Regions from separate parts of the Homo sapiens genome. Here region 2 is linked to region 1. Evidence: fine-mapped expression QTL. A gene starts in region 1. The other region holds a variant in brackets. All regions are shown on one strand. Distances are from middle to middle.

Region 1 (10,966 bases):
GACACCTGCTTACTGTCTGCTCAATCTCTGTAGCCTCCTCCCTGGGCATACGTTCCAGGAAGTCACTGTAATGCTTCAGGCCGATGGCCTGCTGGGTTGTCAGGGAGGCCTGGCTGCGGATGTCTTCCAGACTTCGGAAGCCCTGGAAAAAAGCAGCCAGATGGGAAGCTGTAAGGATCCAGGACCAATGAAGAGGCATGAGTGAGCACACACACAAGGCTTCCATCGCCCCAGACTCTAGGGAAGGCTAGAGGCAGGACCAACCTAGGGGCAGTTGGGTCTGTACTCAGCAGGACTTGGGAAAGGCAGGGAGCATGGGAAACATGCCATCATCCAGCCCTGCCACTATCCTAAGATGCTCGTTCATGATTCCATCAGTCTGAGGATGGACCTTGTCATCTTCATCCTTACCAAGCTGCCCTGGTGATTGTGGGCAGAGCCAGGATTGGGAACCACTGCTCTAGACACGCAGTGTCAAGGCCTGGCCTCCTCAGGAAGGCCCTTGCTGGTCTGGGGAGACTGAGAAACATACTTCTTGTCCCTGTCTACTCCTTCTTAAGGATACCAAGCAACAAGGCTGTTCTGGGAGCTGAGGGGTCTATATGAGTCCTGGTCCGCTTGAAAAATGGTCTCCCTATACTGTGGGTGCATTCCCATCAGAGCACAGCATAGGGATCTGGGGCAGAGCACAGCACACATCTGGGGCAGGAACTCTGAGACACAGCAAAACTGAAGTAGGGGCTGAGCCAGGGTGTGACCTGTTGGTACCACATCTGGGCAGTCTTGGTCCCAGCTCCCCAGATGTTGGAGAAGAGCTCCAAGACAGGCACGCTCTCACTGATATGGTCCAGCTTCCGCAAATGCCCGCTCTCCAGGATCTCTATGATTTTCTCAGCCATCCGCTTCCCAATCCCAGGGATACTGCAGGCCTCCTAGAGGAGGAGGAGGCAGAGGCAAGAAAGAAGAGTGAGGAGATGGAAGAGGTAGAGCCAGTGGAAAGGAAGCTGACTCCTCTAGCAGATGCTGACATAAAAGCCAGCCTGGCTGCTTGGCAACTGTGTGGCTGTGTAAAGCTTGGGTGTAGTTGAAGATGAGAATTTTGGATAGAATGAGGGCTGGGTAATTTGTCTTTTGGTTCCCAGAAGGATGGAGACCAGCAGTAAGAAGTAGAAAATAATGATGATATTAGTCACCACCACCACCACCACCATCATCATCATTCCAACAGCAAGAGCTAACATTTACTGAGGGCTTACTCTATGTCAGGTCCTGTGCTACAGGGACCATTTCATTTAATAGTAGCCCCTTTTTACTAATGAGAAAACTGATGCTTTGAGAGTTTAAGTAACTTGTCTGGAGTCACACAGTTAGTGAATGACAGGAACCAGAGTTCAAACCCTGGTCTGTTAGGCTTCAGAGTCCAAACTTCTTTTAAACAACTTTTTAGGCGGGACACAAGGGCTCATGGCTGTAATCCCAGCACTTTGCAGGGCTGAGCCGAGGGTAGATTGCTTGAGCCCAGGAGTTCAAGACCAGCCTGGGTAACACGGCAAAACACCATCTCTGCTAAATAAATGAATAAATAAATAAATAAACAAAATTAAAAATAAAAAACTTTTAATTATGTTAAAAAATTCAAAAGTAGAGAGATCCATATAACCCCCAAGTATCGTACATCTCCCAGCTTCAACAACTATCAAGATTTTGCCAATCTGCTTTCATCAATTTTCCTTTTTTTTCTTTTGTGCAAGTCCTAGACCCCATAAAATCTTCACCACTGTACCTGAACCCCACTGGGGTTACTAACCACTGGCCAGTAAAGACCCCTCCTCCCACTCTAGCCCCTGGGTACCTGGTACGAGGTGACAGGCTTATGGAAGCTCTTGAGGGCATTGATGGCCTTGGCATAGCCCAGGGCCCTCCACTTGTCTCCCTGAACACTGTAGGCTTTGGCCAGAACTTCCAGCTTCTCTGTGATATGGAGGTTGTGATTGGTCGCCTTCTGGCTTGAGGGCTGTGCACAGACCCACTTATCCAGGACAGCAGGGGCTGGGCTAGGCTCACAATCTCCCTCAAGGGAGGTGGGGTAGTGGCCACTGATGAGGGCTTCCAGATCAGCTGCACTAACCTGGGTTTCTTCCCCATCACTGGCTTCATCATCAGAGATGGGCTTGGGATAGAGAAGAAAAGAAAACAATAAATTCTTGTTCTCCAAGAGAAGGGATCCTTAAAGGTGGGGGTCATCTTCTTTGTGCGGGGGGAGGGTCTTCTAGTCAGACCTAAGAATGAGGCGGGGCCTTCTGCATCAGACTTGGATCTCCTTGGGTGTGAGGCCACGTTCCCTTTGGCTCCACGCAGTGCCTAGCCCTAGGATCCCCAGTGGTATGTGTTAGATATGGCCTAGATAAATGCAGCAGTGATGAGTGTTGGGAAGAGCTAAATGGCTTCACAATAGAGCCCTCCTCTCTCAGGGGCCTGGGACTTTCTGAACAGCCACCAGGCCCACCCCATTTCTGTGATCTGCTTCCTAGGGGAAGGGAGTTCTGAGGGATGGGAGGCTCCTGACCTGGGCTTGGGTGTTTGGTGCCTCTTTTGCCTTTTGGGGAGGAGACACAGGCCTGGTGGGAGGAGGAGGAGGAGAAAGGGCTGTCTGAAGCAGGGCCTCATGGGTGCCAGGAGGAATAGAAGCATCCTGCTCTGCCTTGCTGGGCTGTGGATGGTCCAAGTACCTGTGGGGATGGTGATGGGAGGTTAAGACACCAAAGGTCTCACCCTGTATCTGTCCCCAGTCCTTCTGTACTCTGAAATACTTGGTTTCCCAGTGTGTCCAATTAAGAAAACGAGTTTTTTGAGGTTTTTGGAGTTTCTCTTGAGACAGGGTCTTGCTCTGTCACCCAGGCTGGAGTACAGTGGTACGATCAAGGCTCACTGCAGCCTTAACCTCCCTGGCTCAATCAATCCTCCCACCTAAACCTCTTATAGCTGGGACTACAGGCACACCCCACCATGCCTGGCTAATTTTTTAATTAATGATAGTTATTTTTAATAATTCAAGAAAAGAGCTCAAGATGCTACTAGAAAACATTTGAAAAAAAGACTGGGATCAGCCCACCTACTGGGGATGAAGATGCTGAATCCAGCTACATCCACCAGCCTCCTCTCCTGAAGGCACAAGCTCAGCCAGGCTGACTTCACCAGCTGAGCACCCGGGGGCAGCTGGGGTAGTCTGAGAAGGCGGAGGGCTCGCTCATAGTCCATGCCTTCATCCACCACAATGTGAGTGACACCTGGGCCCTGGGCAGGGCATAGCTGGCCGCCATGCTGAACAATCTGCTTCTCAAAGAGTTCTGCCCGGGCTCGTCCAATGCCAGTGCGCACAACATGGGCCCGAAGGGAGCTCAGCCACTCTGTGGAAGGAACATCCAGATGACTACTGTTGTAACTTTTTAATTTTTATCTGCCACCCCCTGGCCACGACATAACTTCTAACATGATCTGAATGACGTGTTCACAGTCCCCTACCCTGAAAATAAGCATTTCCCTTCCATCCAGACAGCTTTCCTTCTACATATAGCAAATTTTCTCACAGGCCAGCACTTGAATGTAAGGGACAAGGATTTTCATACGTCCTGTTCCTTGGTGCAATCTAGAAGTGTCTGGCACATTGTAAGTAACCTGTAAATATTTGTTTAATGAATGCCTCCTCCCTTCTTACTTTGTTTTTTGTTTGTTTGTTTTGTTTTCTTTTGTTTTGTTTTTGTTTGGAGACAGTCTCACTCTGTCGCCCAGGCTGGAGTACAGTGGCATCGTCTTGGCTCACTGCAACCTCCATCTCCCGAGTTCAAGCGATTCTCATGCCTCAGCCTCCCGAGTAGCTGGGATTACCGGCGTGTGCCACCATGCCTGGCTAATTTTTTGTATTTTTAGTAGAGACAGGGTTTCGCCATGTTGCCCAAGCTGGTCTCGAACTCCTGAGCACAGGTGATCTGCCTGCCTCGGCCTCCCAAAGTGCTGAGATTACAGGCAAGAGCCACCGCGCCCAGCCTCTCTCCATACTTTGAATCCTTTATCATTTATTCTTTCAACAAAGCGCGTTTCTTGCCCTTACAGTCTGACAGACCCGACAACCCTGCCTCCAAAGCCTCTGCCATTTATTTGCCAATTTGGCTGCAAAACAACTAACAACAAGCCTGGGTAATGGAGGGGGGTTTCTGTCCCAGTCCTCAGGGCAAAAATTATACTGGTCATTCCCTGAGGGCCCAGGGAGTCTTTTCTGATGGATAGAGGTCTTCGGGTAGAAAAGAAGGTAACACAGCAAATAGCCTGTCCAAGACCCAGGACCAAGCTTAGCACAAGGTAGATACAAACAGACCTGCAGGCCCTGGACAGGCAGAGTCAGCTCCAATATCTGATTCTGGACATAAACAACGTAGGGCTGAAGCACATGAAGGCTGTGGGTTCAAGCACACGAGGGTTCTGAGACTGGGTCAGCTCACCTTCTGCTTCTTCTCCCTCTTCCCTCCTAGGAATCTTTGCAAGTACTTTTGATGATGCATCAGCATGAATTTTCTGCCGCTTGGGAAATGCCTTCAAGATACCCCTGGGATCCATTGAAGTATGGCTGGATCCCGGCCTATTGGAGCGTTGGTCAGGGCTGCTGCACGTGGAAATCCAGAATTGAGGCCCTCCAACCCCTTTGCCTATGGAGGTAGGGTCTTTCCTGACCAGGCTTTGGGGGTAGCAGCCCAGTTTGGGGAAGCGGGTCGGGGGAGGGGGTCTCTTCAAACCCGGTTAAACTTCAGTGGTTTAGCCTAGCTTCACACTCCCCAGCCTTTCGAAGTTGGAGTATTACGGGAAATGAGGGGAAGGCTGGTGCCATCGGGGGTACTTTTGAGGAGTAGGAAACGACACCATTCCTCAGAGGGGTTGCGCTAAAGATTCAGCACAGCCCTGCTGCGGCCCACTTCGAAGGGCTTTACCAAATGGGATGCTGGGCTAGGAAATGGAGCTTTAGGGGATGGAGCGGAGCCTGGGGAGGACCTGCACATAAACCCCACATACTATTTCTCTACCTCCAACACAGACTCGCAGAGGAAGGAGGAGGACTTTCGGGGGTGAGTGGGAACGCCCTGCACCTGTCCTGGTCTCAGCCTCTCGACATGGGGGTGCTCAGCGCCGCAGCTGCGGGGAGATGGGGCACGGCCGCAGCAGGTGTGGGGAGCCCTCCGGGAATGGAGGAGTCTCGCAGCTGCGGGTGAAGTCCCGGGCAGGTGCGGTGTACTCGCCGTGTACGCAGCTGGCGCAGGCCAGGGAATCCCAGCTCGGGGCTAGAAGAAAGCTGGAGTGCCCGACCCCGGCCCCAAGAGTCTCTCCAACCCCCAGAGTCGGTCCCCGGGTGGGGTCGACTACTGGCCAAGCTAGTCACCCGGGGGTGGGCAGGAATAGACCACTTACCAGCAGAGCCAATGAGAGCGGACGAAGGGGGGAAGGAGGGCAAATGGCCAGAATAGCTTCCGAGTCAGCCGGAAGTGACCCTCTGGAACGGTTGCCATGGCAGCGGCTGGGCGTGCTGCTTAGCAGGGGAAAGATGGCGGTGACGGGCTGGTTGGAGAGTCTGCGGACAGCCCAGAAGACTGCGCTGCTGCAGGACGGTAACTCGAGGGTCCCCACGGGCTCCTTCGTTTTTTTCCCTCAGGGTCCGGCCCTCCGGGAAGGGCCTCAGGGCCTGGGTCGGCAGAGCTGGAAGGGTCTCGGCGGTCAGCCGGGCCAGGTCCTGCATTTGCAGATGAGGAGACTGAGGTTCACAGAGATGACATGACTGGAACACATGTCTCCGGACACCCCTTAGATTCCTCTACACCATCTCGCTCCGCTCTGATTTCTGTTGCTAATATAGTAATTTCTTTTACATTCATTATCTCATTTGCTCCTCACCACTGTCCTGAGAGGCTAATTTTCACCCCGTTTTACAGAAGAGGAAACTGAAATCCAAGAATGTTTTAGACTTTAGAGAGGAGAGAGGCCTGGGCTCTAGTTCCGACTGTGCCATTAATTCACCACGGGCGCTTCAGTCGGCTCCTTTACTTGTTTGGGCCTCACTTTCCTCATCTATAAAATGAAGTGGATGGACTACCATTGTTATCTCTGAGGTCCTTTCCAGCTGTAATATTTTTGTTAAGTGAACTTCTAAATATTTTCTGTGTCTTTAGGGGAGCTAGAGCAAGAACCAAGGGCTGTGCCTGGAAGAAGTGGGCACAGGGGCATGGATACCTAACTTTTCCCCACCCTAGGATTGGCCGATGCCGGCCCCTTTGTGCACTTGGGTCCTTTCTGGACCCACTGGGTAGCCAGGATGAATTGCGTCTGAAGTTCCTGAGGCTTTCAAGATAACAACTGGTGACTCATGTTCACAGGCAGGGGCCAATCAGGGAAGCCTGGAGTTTGTGGAAATTAAAATCATTTACTCGTTCGTGCAACATTTAGGAAGACTTTTACTATGTGCCAAGCTCTAAACTAGAACAGAAAGAAAAAGATATGTTGTCCCAGGACTCAGAGTGGTTGGGAAAAACATGTACTTAAATAATAAGAAGCGTTAAATAGAGGTTGTAGTCTTGTATAAAATGGTAGGAAAGAGTGAAGGTGTAAGTGACATCTCTTTGGAGGAAGACCCAACAGAAGTGATGATGTTTCTGGGTCCTAAAGAATTAATAAGGTCAGGCACAGTGGCTCACGCCCGTAATTCCAGCACTCTGGGAGGCCAAAGTGGGCGGATCATTTGAGCTCAGGAGTTCGAGACCAGCTTGGGCAACATGGCCAAACCTCATCTCTACAAAAAATACGGAAATTATGGCCGGATGTGGTGGTTCACGCCTGTAATCCCAGCATGTTGGGAGGCCGAGTGGGCGGATCCCTTGAGGCCAGGAGTTCGAGACCAGCCTAGCCAACATGATGAAACCACCCCATCGCTACTAAAAATACAAAAAAATTAGCCAGGTGTGGTGGTGCGCACCCGTAATTCCAGCTACTCTGGAGGCTGAGGCAGGAGAATCGCTTGAACCCGGGAGATGGAGGTTGCAGTGAACTGAGATCACACCACTGCATTCCAGCCTGGGTGACAGAGTGAGTGAGACTGTGTCTCAGACAAAAAAATAAATAAGCCGTGCATCATGGCACATGCCTGTAGTCCCAGCTACTTGTGGTGGCTGAGGCCAGAGGATCGCTTGAGCCAGCGAGGTAGACGCAGCAGTGAGCCGAGATCATGCCAGTGCACTCCAGCTTGGGCGACAGAGCGAGACCCTGTCTCAAAAAAACTGGAAAAAAAAAAAAAAAAAAGAATTAATAGGCGTTTGCTGAGTGAAGAAGAGGGGATAGCTATTCAAAGAACAACTCACATATAAGGACCCTATGTGAAGGTGTGAAGGTACGTGCCTGATTACTAGAGGAATAACAAAATGTTTAGTAATGTTAAAGCAGTCACTCAGTCAGAACAAACCACCTATAACTATGTCAGGTACTATTCTAGGTGCCAGGATGGAAGCGAGAATAAAAAGGTCCCTTTTCTCAAGGAGCAATGAGGGGAAGTTGTGGAAAATGAAGAGAGATGACAGATAAGTTGGGACATATTGTGATAGATCTCTTATGCCTTGCTAAAGATTTAGGACATTTTCTCATAGGACAGTGGTTTTTGTTTTTATTGTGGTAATAAATACATAACAGAATTTAGCATTTTAATCATTTTTAAGTGTACAGTTCTGTGGCATTAAGTACATTCACATTGTTGTGCAACTATCACCACCATCTTCAGAACTTTTTAATCTTTCTCAACGGAAATTCTTTTTTTTTTTTTTTTTTTAGAGACAGGGTCTTGCTCTGTCACCCAGGCTGTGGGGTACGATCATAGCTCACTGCAGCCTTGAACTCCTAGGCTCATGTAGTCCTCCCACCTCAGCCTCTTGAATAGCTGGGACTACAGGCATGTGCCACTACACTCAGCTCAAGTGAAATTCTGTACCCACCAAATGCCAACTCCTCATTCCCTCCTCCTCCCATCCCCTGGCAACCACCATTCTACTTTCTGTCTATGAATTTGACTGCTCTAGGAACCTCGTCTAAGTGGAATCATACAATATTTGTCTTTCTGTAACTGGTGTATTTCACTTAGTGTAACGCTTCAAGGTTCATCCATGTTGCCACAGTTGGATACTTCCAGCTGTGCCATTAATTCACCACAGGATCTCTAGTTGGCCCCTTTACTTGTTTGGATCCTTTCCAGCTGTAATATCGTTCATAAAGTAAACCTCTAAATGTTCCCTGTGTTTTTAGGGGAGATAGAGCAAGGACCAAGGGCTGTGCCTGGAAGAGGTGGGCACAGAGGTATGGATATTGTAGCATGTGTCAAAATTTTGCTCCTTTTTAAGGCTGAGTGATATCCATTGTATGTCTACACTGCATTCTGTTTATTTATTCATCTGTTGATGGACACCTGGGTTGCTTCCACCTTTTGGGTATTGTGGATAATGCTGCTCTGAACATGAGTATACAAATATCCACTTGAGTCCCTGCTTTCACTGTTTTTGGTCACAGAAGTTTTTAAACAAATATTTTATCAGCCAGGATTTTGTTAAGTTCTTTTGTTAGTAGCATCACAAAATGATATTGTTAAGATTCCACCCTATCCCCAGACTGAAAAACAACTCAGTATTGCATATGTGGTTAAGCCTTGTCAAACCTGCAGATTTACCCCTGGGTGTGTAGGAGGGGTGTGGGGAGTAGGGGGGAGGTTACTCCCTTCCACCAAGAATCATGGCTATTGATATCTTGGGCTGGATAATGAGACTCCATTTTACTTTTGTTTTTTTAAGAAATAATTACATTCATTGTGGAAATATGAAAAATAAAGAAGTCAAATATAATATTACCACCCAGATAATCATAATTTACTTTTTTTTTTGAGACAAGTTTCACTCTTGTTGCCCAAACTGGAGTGCAATGGCGCAATCTCGGCGCACTGCAACCTTTGCCTGCTGGGTTCAAGCGATTCTCCTATCTCAGTCTCCTGAGTAGCTGGGATTATAGGCGCCCGCCACCAAGCCCGGCTAATTTTTTTTTTAATTTTTAGTAGAGACAGGGTTTCACCATGTTAACCAGGCTGGTCTCAAACTCCAGACCTTAGGTGATCCGCCTGCATCGGCTTCCCAAAGGGCTGAGATTACAGGCGTGAGCCGCCTCGCCCAGCCCATAATTTATATTTTTATACATAAACTTCTATATTATTTCATGCATACACTCACAGTTATTTTTCTTTTACAAAAATATACTAATATACTTAATAATTTATATATACATTTATTTCTAGAATAAATATACTATTAAAACAAAGTATAGATAAGTATCGAATAATCATTGGGTAAGGGAAGATGCTCTGAGTGCAACTTCTAAGGCAGTAACCACAAAGAAAGAAAATATATAGTTGGCTTTATAAAAACTAAACACCTGTGTTGGGTACCTGTAATCCCAGCTACTGGGGAAACTGAGGCAGGAAGCTCACTTGAGGCCAGAAGTTTGAGGCTGTAGTGTGCTATAATCATGCCTGTGAATAGCCACTGCACTCCAGCCTAGGGAACATAGCCAGACACTCTTAAAAAACAAAAACACTTGTTTGGGAAAACCCACTTTAAACAAAGTTAAGGGCCAGGCGTGGTGGCTCACACCTGTATTCTCAACACTTTGAGAGGCCAAGGCAGGAGGATCACTTGAGCTCAGGAGTTTGAGATCAGTCTGGGTAACATAGTAAGACCCCATCTCTACAAAGAAATTTAAAAATTAGCTGGGCATGGTGGTGTGCAACCATGGTCCCAGCTACTCGGGAGTCTGAGGTGGAGGATCACTTGAGCCCAGGAGGCAGAGGTTGCAGTGAGCCGAGATCACACCACTGCACTCCAGCCTTGGCAACAGAGCAAGACACTCTAAAAAAAAGCCTCAGTTGGCCGGGCGTGGTGGCTCATGCCTGTAATCCCAGCCCTTTGGGAGGCTGAGATGGGCAGATCACGAGCTCAGGAGATTGAAACCATCCTAGCCAAAATGGTGAAGCCCTGTGTCTACTAAAAATACAAAAATTAGCTGGGTGTGGTAGCATTCACCTGTAGTCCCAGCTACTCAGGAGGCTGAGGCAGGAGAATTGCTTAAACCCGGGAGGCAGAGGTTGCAGTGAGCCGAGATCACACCACTGCACTCCAGCCTGGCGACAGAGCGAGACTCTGTCAAAAAAAAAAACCCTCACTTTTCCTCATCTATGAAATACAGGTAATGAAAACACATAGGATTATTGTGAGAATTAAATTTGATAAGACATGTGAAATGCCTGGATTTAGTAAGCGCTGCATCCTGCCTGGACTCAAGGCTGGATGCCAAGGGGAGAAGATGGTCAGGCAAGACCCCCTCAGCTCCTCCCAGGCAGTACCTTGGATCCCGCTCCTGACAGGAGAGCCCTTTCTAATGCCTGTGAGCCATCCAAATGATTAAGGGTGGTATTACCTAGGGCTCTGCTAGAGGCCCTGCAAATTTAGGGGTGAGTTTATGCAGAATACAGATTAGGAATGGCTCAAGGGAACTGTATCCCAGAGAAGTGAATTGGACAGGAAAAAGGCACCTTGGGGCTCTTATTCATCAAGCATACATAGGGTACTTGTCTACTGGATGTTAGTGCTCTGTTACTAGTTTTACTGAGGAGTCTGCCTGTATCTACTTCCCTACCTATAAAAAGAAAGGGGAAATTACATAGCCACTCTTAAGCAAATGCTCCAGGGGTAGAGGAATTGGGCTAGGAGACTCCCTTAGTTTCTTCTTCTTCTTTTTTTTTAGACAGAGTCTCACTCTGTTGCCCAGGCTGGAGTGCAGTGGCACAATCTCAGCTCACTGAAACCTCCGCCTCCCGGGTTCAAGCAATTCTCCTGCCTCAGACTCCTGA
Region 2 (10,966 bases), 940 kb after region 1:
TGAGCCACCGTGCCTGGCCAGTTCTTGGGTTTTGACAAATGCATGTCATGTATATACCATCACAGCACCATACAAACTAGTTTCACTGCTCTAAAAATTCCTTGTGCTCCACCTGTTCATTCCTCCCTCCCCCGAAACCCCTGGCAACAACTGTTTGGTTTTTTTTACTATCTCTGTAGTTTTTGCCTTTTCCAAAAGGTCATAGAGTTGGAATCAAATAGTATGTAACTTTTGCAGACTAGCTTCTTTCACTGAGTAATATACAGTTAAGATTCCGCCGTGCCTTTTGGTGACTTGATAGCTCCTTTCTTTTTATCACTTGATACTATTCCATTGTTTGTTATGTACCACAGTTTATTCTTTCACCTTTTGAAAAATATCTTGATTGCTTCCAGTATTTTTTGGCGATTTTTAATTAAGCTTCTATAAACATTTGTATACAGGTTTTTGTGTGGACATACGTTTTCAACTCATCTGGGTAAATCCCTAGGAATGTAATGCTAGATCGTATGTTAAGACTATGTTTAGCTTTATGAGAAGCTGCCAAACCATTTTCCATAGTGGCTATACCATTTTTCATTCCCACTAGCAATGAATGAGAGTTCCTATTGTTTCATGTCCTCACCAGCATTTGGTATTGTCTGTTTTTTGGATTTTAGCCATTCCAATAGGTGTGGAGTGGTATCTAATTGTTTTAATTTGCAGTTCTCTCATGACATATGCTGTTGAGCGTCTTTTCATATGCTTGTCTGTCATCTGTATATCTTCTTTGGTGACATATCTTTGTTTTTCTTCCTAACCTCCAGCCACTCCCCATTCTACCTCTGCCCATACATACCTTTTTCTCACATCATGGGTTCAGACCATGGGGCTAATTATGCTTTCTGGCATATTTTTCTTTTGGTCACTTCTCAAGCCGTTAAATGAGTTAGATCCGCTGAGTAGGTGCTGGGCCTACCTCTGAATTCCTAAGTTGCTGTTGGTTTTAACTGGGGCTGGCTCATGAGTTCTCCACCTTATATTCTCCAATGATGGTGTCTTCCATAAAGTGTAGCTGCTACTGAGATTTGCAACCTCAATCCTAAGGTTTGAGATTGATTCTGCCCTCCAGTACAGACTGTAGAGAGACTGGTATGCAGATTTGTCCATTCCATACCCTATTGGGCTTAACCTTGCCTTTGATGAGAAATGCATATACCATGCTCCTTTGAAGCCCCAACCAGATCTCAAACTCTCATAGTTGAACCAGCATCAAGAAGACAAAGTCTAAAACTTTCCTGGCCTGGCCTTTTGCTGTTAAATTCGTTATTGTTATCCAATGTCTTAGTTGTAATTTTGCTTTTTTTCACTTATAAAAACAGTTGAACCATTTTACTAAAAATGTTGGGAATTAGAAATGGGAGAAAACAATTACTGATAATCCTATCACCTTTTGTTTACAATTCTATGTCTGTTCTTATGATGATTTCTGTAAATGATTCTATAAATAACTGGGAGTGACGCTGTCCCAGTTGTGCACAGGGCTTTTGCTTTGCGTGCATCTCATCTTCTTAGTGAGGACTTAACATCTTCTGAGGCTTCCCTGCTACCTGCTTAACGCTGTTGTCTGAATTCAGCTTGCCCACTGTTGCTAGGGTTTCTAGATTCTGAAAACAGCACATTTGCTTGGGAAGATAGCTCTTACCCACTGCCATGTTACATTAACGATATTCCCATTTTTCCTCCTTGACGTCTCACAGCAGTGAAGAGTGGTTTAGGTAGTATATGTATGAACTGTGCTGTTTGCCTACTTCTCAGATCACAGCTTTACTATCACAAATGGTGGTAGCTGTCCTGAGGGGTTGTGTTCTTCCAGTTGTTGCTTTTATTGTTATTTTCCCCTTAGAACAGTCAAGATTTGGTGATCAGTGTCACCTGGAATAAATACCACACGCCTCCTCCTTTCTCTCTTTCTTGGGTGCGTGGTACAGAAGACTGAGATTGGCTTACAGAGTGCCCCAGGGTCCTTGTACTCGAGGGACACAGAAGGTTCACAGGCATAAGCACAAATGCCTAGAGCTCCTTTTCAGGTAATTGCCTGAAACAAATGGGCTACCATTTAGGGCTTCTGTCACACAGGAAGTCAGATAACTTAATACTACTGTATGTTTGCAGCAGGACTAGATCTAGAGATCTAGAGAAGGAGTGGCCCACTGTCCTTTCCTAGCACTGGGTTGTGGGTAAGCAGACACACTTAGTTCCCATCCAGCGTTGATCGCTGTCCTCTCTTCTTTGGAAGGCCAGACGTTAATCTGCTCCGTAGATTGTCATCGTTGGGACACAGTTCTGGGCATGAGGCTTGTAGTAACAAGCAACATAAACCTGGTCCTGGTCCTCATTGGGCTGAAGGGTCCTTGAGCTAGAAGACATTGTGGGGAGGTGGGCCTGATACAGTTTCACAGCCTTAGGTTATCACCTGGTGCCTCTTTGTCTCCTCTTCAGCAGTCCATGGCTTGAGGCCTAGTGGAGGGCTCTTGGCAAGCAGGAGTCCTGAGGCTCAGAAATGATGTGACCAGGCCTGAGTTTGAGGCTGAGACAGTTGTCCATTTGTCAGCGAGATCATAGCTTCACAGCAGCTTCTCAGAGAGGTATGGTTCACTGGACTCCAGGCCCCTAGCATGTTAGTAAAAGATAGTGGCCCTCACAGATCCCTTTCCTTCCTACTCCTATGTTACTCAGTCTCTTGGAGTCCCTGGTCATAGAATCAGCTTAGCCACAGGAAGGCCAATCAAAGAGATGTCTTGTTTTTCTAGTACTAACCCTCATGTGATACCTGGGGCCTCTTGGAGCCCTGCCTCCGACCACCAGTTTCTCTTACTCTGACCTCAGGCCTTTCAACATGATGTCAGGCTGCCCACGGCCATGGCTGTAGGGAAGAGTAACTGCTAGAGAATGGGACTTGGCCCAGGCTACCAGTCCCAGGGGGGTCGAGCTGGCTGGCTGTGCTTTTGGCCTGTGATGGATTTGACTCTTCAAGGCTTCTGACAAAGCTTGGTTGGTTAGAGGAAAAATGTAGTGAAAACCTACAGGCAACACCATGGCTTGCCCTAACCCTCTCGTCTTCCTGTTCTAGCTTTTCCCATATATCAGGTTGCAGACATGCTGAATTCCCACCCTCCTGGAGCCAAGCTGCCAATTTCTCATTCCTGTAACCAGTGGTTTTGTGTAGATAAAAGGCCCAGAAGGAAGATGGTCGCTGAGCAGGGAGCCTTCGGAGTTAGACCTTCTTTAGCCAGGGCCAGTGGACACTCATCTCATGAATCATGCTCAGAACCATCCAGTGGCTTCATGTCTCACTTGAGTAAAGGCCAAAGGCCATCACCTTTAAGGTCCTTTGTACTCTACTTCAATCGGCCTTCTCTCTGACTGCTCTGCTCTTCCTATTCTGCCCCCCTTGCTTTTCCTCTGAAGTGCCAGGCATTCTTCTACCTCAGGGCCTTTGCACTTACTCTCCCTATGCCTGCAAAGTTCTGCCTGCAGATAGCTTCATACCTTACCTCACTTCCTTAGACCCTTTCGCAAATAACTTCTCTCAGTTAGGCCTTCCCTGACCTCCTTATTTAAAAAGGAAATCCTGCACCCTCCTCCCACAAAGCAGTATCCCCCTTTCCTGCCTAATTCTTCTTTTTAAAAAGTTATATATATTTGTATAGTCAGGGTCTCACTATGTTACCCAGGCTGGTCTCGGACTCCTGGACTCAAGCGATCCTTCTGTCTTGCCTCCTAAAGTGCTGAGATTACAGACATGAGCCACCGCACCCAGCCTAATTTTTCTTTTTCTTTTCTTTTCTTTTTTTTTTTTTTGAGATGAAGTCTAGCTCTGTTGCCCAGGCTGGAGTGCAGTGGTGCAATCTCGGCTCACTGTAACCTCCGCCTCCTGGGATCAAGCGATTCTCCTGCCTCACCCTCCCAAGTAGCTGGGACTACAGGCACGTGCCACCACACCTGGCTAATTTTTATATTTTTTGTAGAGACGGGGTTTCACCATGTTGGCCAGGCTGGTCTCAAACTCCTCAAGTGATCTGCCTGCCTCAGCCTCCCAAAGTTCTGGGATTACAGGCGTGAGCCACCGTGCCCAGCCTATTTCTTCTTTAAAACACTTATCACTTCTGCGATGTCTATTATGCTTTAAGAAATTTTTTTTTAAATTACCATCTAGCTTATTTTACTTACTTACTTATTTGTCTTGTTTATTGTCTGTCCCCCCTCCTTCCCACTAGAACATAAGCTCCCTGAAGATAAGGATGGAAATGTGCTTTATCCATTAATGTTTCTCCAGTACATCAGTAAATATTTGTTGAACAAATGAATAAAATGGAGGAAGCTCTTGCTTTGGGGTTTTTCCGACTGTTGGAAAAATATTCTCACCACTGGAGACGGAGAATTCTCCTGGCCCAGCACCAAGCCCGAGCTTTTAGCTCATTCAAGAGCACTTCTTCAGTTTGGACCCTTATTCCCATAGGAGAGGAGACATTCCAAGGGCATTTTCATAGGAGTCAGAACCCTTCTGTGGGAGGAGGTATGTGATTTTGGAAAAATTGTCTGAACCTTGCTTTATTTTATTTTATTTTATTTTATTTTTTATTTTTGAGACGGAGTCTCTCTCTGTCGCCCAGGCTGGAGTGCGGTAGTGTAATCTCGGCTCACTGCAACCTCCACCTCCTGGGTTCAAGTGATCCTCCTGCCTCAGCCTCCCAAGTAGCTGGGATTACAGGGCACGCTACCACGCCTGGCTAATTTTTGTATTTTTAGTAGAGATGGGGTTTTGCCATGTTGGCCAGGCTGGCCTCAAACTCCCGGCCTTAAGTGATCTGCCCACATCAGCCTCCCAAAGTGCTGAGATTATAAGCATGAGCCACCGTATCTGGCCTGAACCTTGCTTTATGAGGTGAGGGAGTACCTCCATCCCAGCAACTGGCACAGTGCTTAGTATGTGTCAAGCACTTAATTTATTTTCTTTTTTTGTTTGGTTTGAGATGGACCCTTGCTCTGTCGCCCAGGCTGGAGTGTAGTGGTGCGATCTTGCGATCTCAGTTCACTGCAACCTCTGCCTCCTAGGTTCCAGCGATTCTCCTGCCTCAGTCTCCTGAGTAGCTGGGATTACAGGCACGCAGTACCATGCCCAACTAGTTTCTTGTATTTTTAGTAAAGATGGGGTTTTGCCATGTTGGCCAGGCTGGTCTTGAACTCCTGACCTCAGGTGATCCACCTGCCTCGGTGTCCCAAAGTGCTAGGATTACATGCATGAGCCACTGCACCTGGCCTATTTTCATAAATTTTTAGAGCACATTACCTAAATATCCAGTGCTTTCTTAGTGCTGAGGATACCATGGAAAGCAAAGCAGGCAAGGTTTCTGCTCTCATGAATCTTATATTCTTATTGGAGAAACATGAAAAATTTTATATAGTTTTAGATAGTACAAGTGCTGTGTTGAAAATAAAGCAGGGCCCCAGCTACTCAGGAGGCTGAGGTGGGAGGATCACTTGAGCTCAGGAGTTCTGGGCTATTATGCACTATGCCAGTCAG[G/A]TGTCCACACTAAGTTCAGCATCAATATGGTGACCTCCCAGGAGCATGGGACCACCAGGTTGCCTAAGGAGGGGTGACCTGGCCCAGTAGGTCAAAACTCCTGTGCTGATCAGTAGTGGGATTGTGCCTGTGAATAGCCACTGCACGCCAGCCTGGGCAACATGGGGAGACCCTGTCTCTTAAAAAAATGAAAGTAAAGCAGGGCGCCAAGTGTGGTGACTCATGCCTCTAATCCCAGCACTTTGGGAGGCCACGGGGGGGTGGATCACTTGAGCCAGGAGTTCGAGAGCAGCCTGGGCAATGTGGTGAAACCCCATCTCTACAAAAAATACAAAAATTAGTCAGGCATGGTGGTGCGTGCCTGTAGTCCCAGCTACTTGGGAGGCTGAGGTGGGAGGATCGCTTGAGCCCAGGAGGCAGAGGCTGCAGTGAGCCAAGATCGTGCCACTGCACTCCAGCCTAGGTGACAGAGTGAGACCCTGTCTTAAAAAAATAAATAAAATTAAAAAAGCAGGGATGGTACTCTGGAGCTTACATGGGTAGAAGTAGTGGTTGAGGTGGGTGGGGAGGATGCTGTTAGCAGTAATCAGTGATGGCTTCCTTGAAGATTTGAACTGAGACCTCAAAGACCGGTGGCAGCCAGGGCTGTCACATTGTACAACTCTAGGGCCACCGTTCACATTATTCTGTGCAATTGCTGCCCCCTGGAGTTGTACAATGCTGGGAGTCCTGATGAAGGTCCTAGGCAGTGAAACAGCTAGTATAAAGGCCCTGAGGGCAGCACGGACCTCGAAGTGTTTAAGGAAAAGAAAGAAGGCCAGTGCATCTGAGGCTTGGTAAGAGAGAACAGTGGAACAAGATGAGGTTGCAGAGTTTGAAGACAATGTAAAGAATGTGACATTCAATAAATTATAATTATTATTATTGTTTTTTTTTTTTTTTTTTTTTGAGATGGAGTCTCGCTCTGTCGCCCAGGCTGGAGTGCAGTGGCAGTGGTGCGATCTCAGCTCACTGCAAGCTCCGCCTTCTGGTGTCATGCCATTCTCCTGCCTCAGCCTCCCAAGTAGCTGGGACCACAGGCACCCACCACCACGCCTGGCTAACTTTTTGTATTTTTAGTAGAGACAGGGTTTCACCGTGTTAGCCAGGATGGTCTCGATCTCCTGACCTTGTGATCCGCCCACCTTGGCCTCCCAGAGTGCTGGGATTACAGGCGTGAGCCACCGCGCCCGGCCGACATTCAATAAATTATTTGTTGACTGATGAGGAAAGAAAAAGGATGATATGATGGAGGCTGGAGTGGGGTTTTAGGAAGCATTCCAGTGTGGGACCTCAGCTTTAGTATGAAGACAGGAGAACTGAGTTGAGTGACGGTTTTATTTCCCCAAAAAGGAAATAGTAGCAAAAGTGGCTCAAAGGAAATACCATTAAGATATATATATATATATGTATATTTATAGTACATCATGACATTCAAAGCCATGAAGATATTTGAATCTACTTTGATAGTGACTAAGAGGGAGGCACATTGCTTTTTAATACCATCTTATCTTGTTGAATGTCTCGGCTTGATTATCTCTTTGGGTGGCAGTGGGAATATTATTACCATTTAGCATTGCTCAGCCATGACATGATGTATTCATGTACAGAACACACAAAAAGTACAGTCCTTGCCCTTGGGGAACTGAAATGCCAAAAAGATTTGTTTCTTCCCATTGCCCTGTTTAGGTTTCTTGATCTTCTGGGATGGCTGGCTTCCCAGAGTTCTGGAGGAGAGTGGGTGGACAAAAGGCCCTTGGGTAGATGCCTTGCCTCTTGGGTCAGTAAGAAGTCCCCAAGCTGCATACTTAGGCACAGAGGGCACCTCGCTTCCCAAATCAGACTGTGATCTTGTCGCCATTGGCCTAGCCTGTCTTTTTTTATTTTTAAGAAGACCTTTGTAAAGGTGTTGCTTTAAGCCAAAGCCAAGAGTGGGAGCTACCATATTGATGCCAAGAAACCCAAGCACTGGGCTTCTTCCTTGGCCCAGAATTCCTGTAGCGCTCCAGGCTGGCTTAGGAGTCCCCTGGGGGCTGGCTGACCTTTGAGTTTGGGGGTGGTTGGGAGTAGATGGAAGAAGGTGCAACAGATGTCCAGCAGGGGATGGTTGAATGTGAGCTTTTACCACCCTGCAAGAAAGGGTCTGGTGCCCTTGGCTTAGAATTTCTAAAATTCAGTATCTTGGCTGGTACAATGGCTCACACCTGTAATCCTAACACTTTGGGAGGCCGAGGTAGGAGAACTGCTTGAGCCCAGGAGTTCAAGACCAGCCTGGGCAACATAGTGAGGCCTCATTTCTACAAATAATAAAAAAAATTAGCCAGGCATGGTGGCATGTGTCTGTAGTCTCAGCTACTCAGTGGCTGAGGTGGGAGGATTACTTGAGCCCAGGAGATCAAGGCTGTAGTGAGCTGTGATCACGGCACTACACTCTAGCTTGGGCAACAGAGTGAGACCCTGTCTCAAAAAATAAATAAAAATAAAATTCAGTGTCTTATTCCAGGAAACCCTTTGCTCACTGAAAGCCCAGGACAGAGTTAAGCTGCCTGAAGTGTTGGGAGCCGGAAGAGTTTATTTGACTGGATTCTCAGCCGAATCAGTGCTGGGAGCCACTGTTTTTGAACTTGAGGAATGCTGTGGGAACATGGTCTTTGGCTCCCAGCAAAATGTCTCAGGAACCATCTACTTGAGTGGGGCAAATGCATTCCATGAATCTGGTTGGTTGGGGTATAGCGCAAAGAAAGCTTCTATAACCCAGAGTTGCAACTCAAAGGTGGCTGCTGCACTGTAGCCTTATTGGACTCCCAGGTCAGAGTATGAGAGTGCAGTCTTCGCTGATGTGGCTTTTTTCCTTTCTTTTTTTTTTTTTTTTTAAGATTATATAAAATTGATTAAATATAACGAGATTTATGGGTTTTTTTTCTATTATTTTGTTTTTATAACTGGAGGCTTAAAAGCTTAGCTATATCAGAATATTATCATATAAACATATTTCAAAAGTTATTTTTACAAAGTTTTGCTACATACAGTAGTATTTGTGTTGTCACCCAACACCATTTTCAAATGTCTAATAAAGTATCAGTAATTTTGAATTATAAATAAAAAATAATCTCTGCAGTTGTTTATTTAGTAGTTGTTGACTGAATTCTGTTGTAATGGCTGTGACTCAAAGCATCTCACAAAGGAAATCTCAGGTCTGGTTAGAAGGTTCTGGGAGGGACCCAAGGTCAGGAAATTGGGTGAAGCTGAAAGCAGCTTTTGAAGGACTGGGCTGATTAAGATCCAGAGCCCAGAAGTTAGGGAAGCTGGAGGCATCTGCTGATATTTTAAAGGATAAATGATGAGCAGAGTTTGCTTTGAGTGAGTACTAAGAAAAGGAAAGTTGCAGCCAGGCTCAGTGGCTCACGCCTGTAATCGCAGCACTTTGGGAGGCCTAGGCGGGTGGATCACGAGGTCAGGAGTTCGAGACCAGCCTGGCCAATATGGAAGGCTGAGGCAGCAGTGAGCCATGATCATGCCACTGCACTCCAGCCTGGGCAACAGAGTGAGACTTTATCTCTACTAAAACCCCATCTCTACTAAAAATACAAATATTAGCCGGGAGGCCAAGGCGGGCAGATCACAAGATCAAGAGATCAAGACCATCCTGGCCAACATGGTGAAACCCCATCTCTACTAAAAATACAAAAATTAGCTGGGCATGGTGGCATGCACCTATAGTCCCAGCTACTCGGGAGGCTGAGGCAGGAGAATCGCTTGAACCCGGGAGGCAGAGGTTGCAGTGAGCCGAGATCGCGCCACTGCACTCCAGCCTAGCGACAGAGTGAGACTCCGTCTCAAAAAAAAAAAAAGAAAAGAAAAAGGAAAGTTGCACACTAACTGCCGTGGAAGGGCACTTGCTAGGTGCCAGACACTGTGCTGTCACACTAAAACCTCCCACCCTATGAGATGAGTGTTCTTCTCCCAGTTTTACAGATGAGGAGCCTTGCACACATGGAAGTTAACTTGCCCACCAGTCAGCTAGAGAAAGGTGGAGCTGGGGTTTGATGGGCTCAGTTGCTTCCACAGCGTGTATTCTCGTCCACTTTGCTGGGCTCCTCTCTGGCATCTTATTGGGATGCTGGAGTAATATGTTAATAATTTCATGCAGTTTCCACCTAAGTCCACCCAGAGACCTCCAAAGGGTCCAAAGATCGTGAGACTAAGAATGTCTGACACCTGCCTTCCTCACTTCCCAACTTCCCTGTCTCTAAGCCAGGCTCAACACTCTGCCTAAGTCCTTCAGCCCATAACCTTGGGCTGGCATTTAGTTTCTCTTTACCTTTGTCCACTATTTTAAATCTTTTTTTTTTTTTTTTTTTTTAATGGAGACAGGGACTCACTCTGTTGCCCAGCCTGAGTGCAGTGGCACAGTCATAGCTCACTACAGCCTCAAACTCCTGGGCTCAAGTGGTCCTCATGCCTCAGCCTCTTGAGTAGATAGGACTTCAAGTTTGTGCCACCATGCTTGGTTAATTTTTAAATTTTTTATAGAGATGGGGTCTCACTATGTTGCCCAGACTGGTCTTGAACTCCTGGGCTAAAGCAATCCTACTGCCTCGGCCTCCCAAAGTACTGGGATTACAGGTGTGAGCCACCATGTCTGGCCTTCTGTGACTCTTAATCCCAAGGAAATAACCCAAATATGGGAAGGAAACGAGGTAATATGCACAAAAATATTTTCCAAGGCATAGCTTTGGAAGCAACCTTATGTCCAACAAGAAAGCAGTGGTCAAATAGAGGACTATATATGGTTTTCCTGGTTTTGTAATAAATGATAATAGTAATTATCAAGAAAATTGTAGTTTCTTGGCTGTGCATGGTGGTTCACACCTGTAGTCCCAGCGCTTTGGGAGGCTGAGTCAGGAGGATTGCTTGAGCCCAGAAGTTTGAGACCAGTCCAGGCAACATAGCAATACCCCATAACCCATTTCTACCAAAAAAAAAAAAAAAAAAAAAATGTAATCAGGTGTAGTGGTGCACACATGTAGTCCCAGCTACTCAGGAGACTGAGGCAGGAGGATCACTTGAGCCTGGAAGGCTGAGGCAGCAGTGAGTCACGATCATGCCACTGCACTCCAGCCTGGGCAACAGAGTGAGACTTTATCTCTAAAAGAATAAAAAATAAAAATAGTAATTTCTTAATTGTGTAAACTGACAGATCAAAAATTGGAGAGCCTTGGAGTCTTAACCAAGGGGCCAGGCACCCCCAGAGTCAACATCAGAAGCTCAAAATTGCAGGACTGGTTCAGCCTCATTACTCCCATCGCCCAGCCTTTGTAGTCCCAACTGGCTTTGCTGGACAGGTCACCTTTCTTGTTG

Alleles and levels. Alleles are on the strand shown, and positions count from the first base shown. SD is a standard deviation of normalised expression in the study named.
For the expression in tibial artery of the gene that starts at base 5,508 in region 1, allele A in region 2 goes with a lower level than allele G (moderate effect, 0.52 SD a copy in GTEx).

Evidence for each region.
Region 2: its variant is fine-mapped to the expression of POLL in tibial artery (GTEx, PIP above 0.99).

Annotation. Positions count from the first base shown.
Region 1 is chr10:101,582,750-101,593,715 of GRCh38, forward strand. It overlaps POLL (DNA polymerase lambda), which reads right to left and starts at 5,508. Exons shown (of 9, transcript NM_001174084.2): 1 at 5,073-5,508; 2 at 4,497-4,657; 3 at 3,113-3,407; 4 at 2,567-2,729; 5 at 1,853-2,170; 6 at 759-932; 7 at 14-142. The coding sequence starts at 4,611. It overlaps DPCD (deleted in primary ciliary dyskinesia homolog (mouse)), which reads left to right and starts at 5,572. Exons shown (of 6, transcript NM_015448.3): 1 at 5,572-5,651. The coding sequence starts at 5,588. RefSeq lists enhancers at 5,148-5,427, 5,528-5,857.
Region 2 is chr10:102,520,501-102,531,466 of GRCh38, forward strand. The region is part of intron 2 of SUFU (SUFU negative regulator of hedgehog signaling); the gene reads left to right. Among named protein-coding and RNA genes, the nearest start is that of SUFU, 22 kb to the left of the region's middle. The variant G/A (reference allele first, on the strand shown) is at 5,567.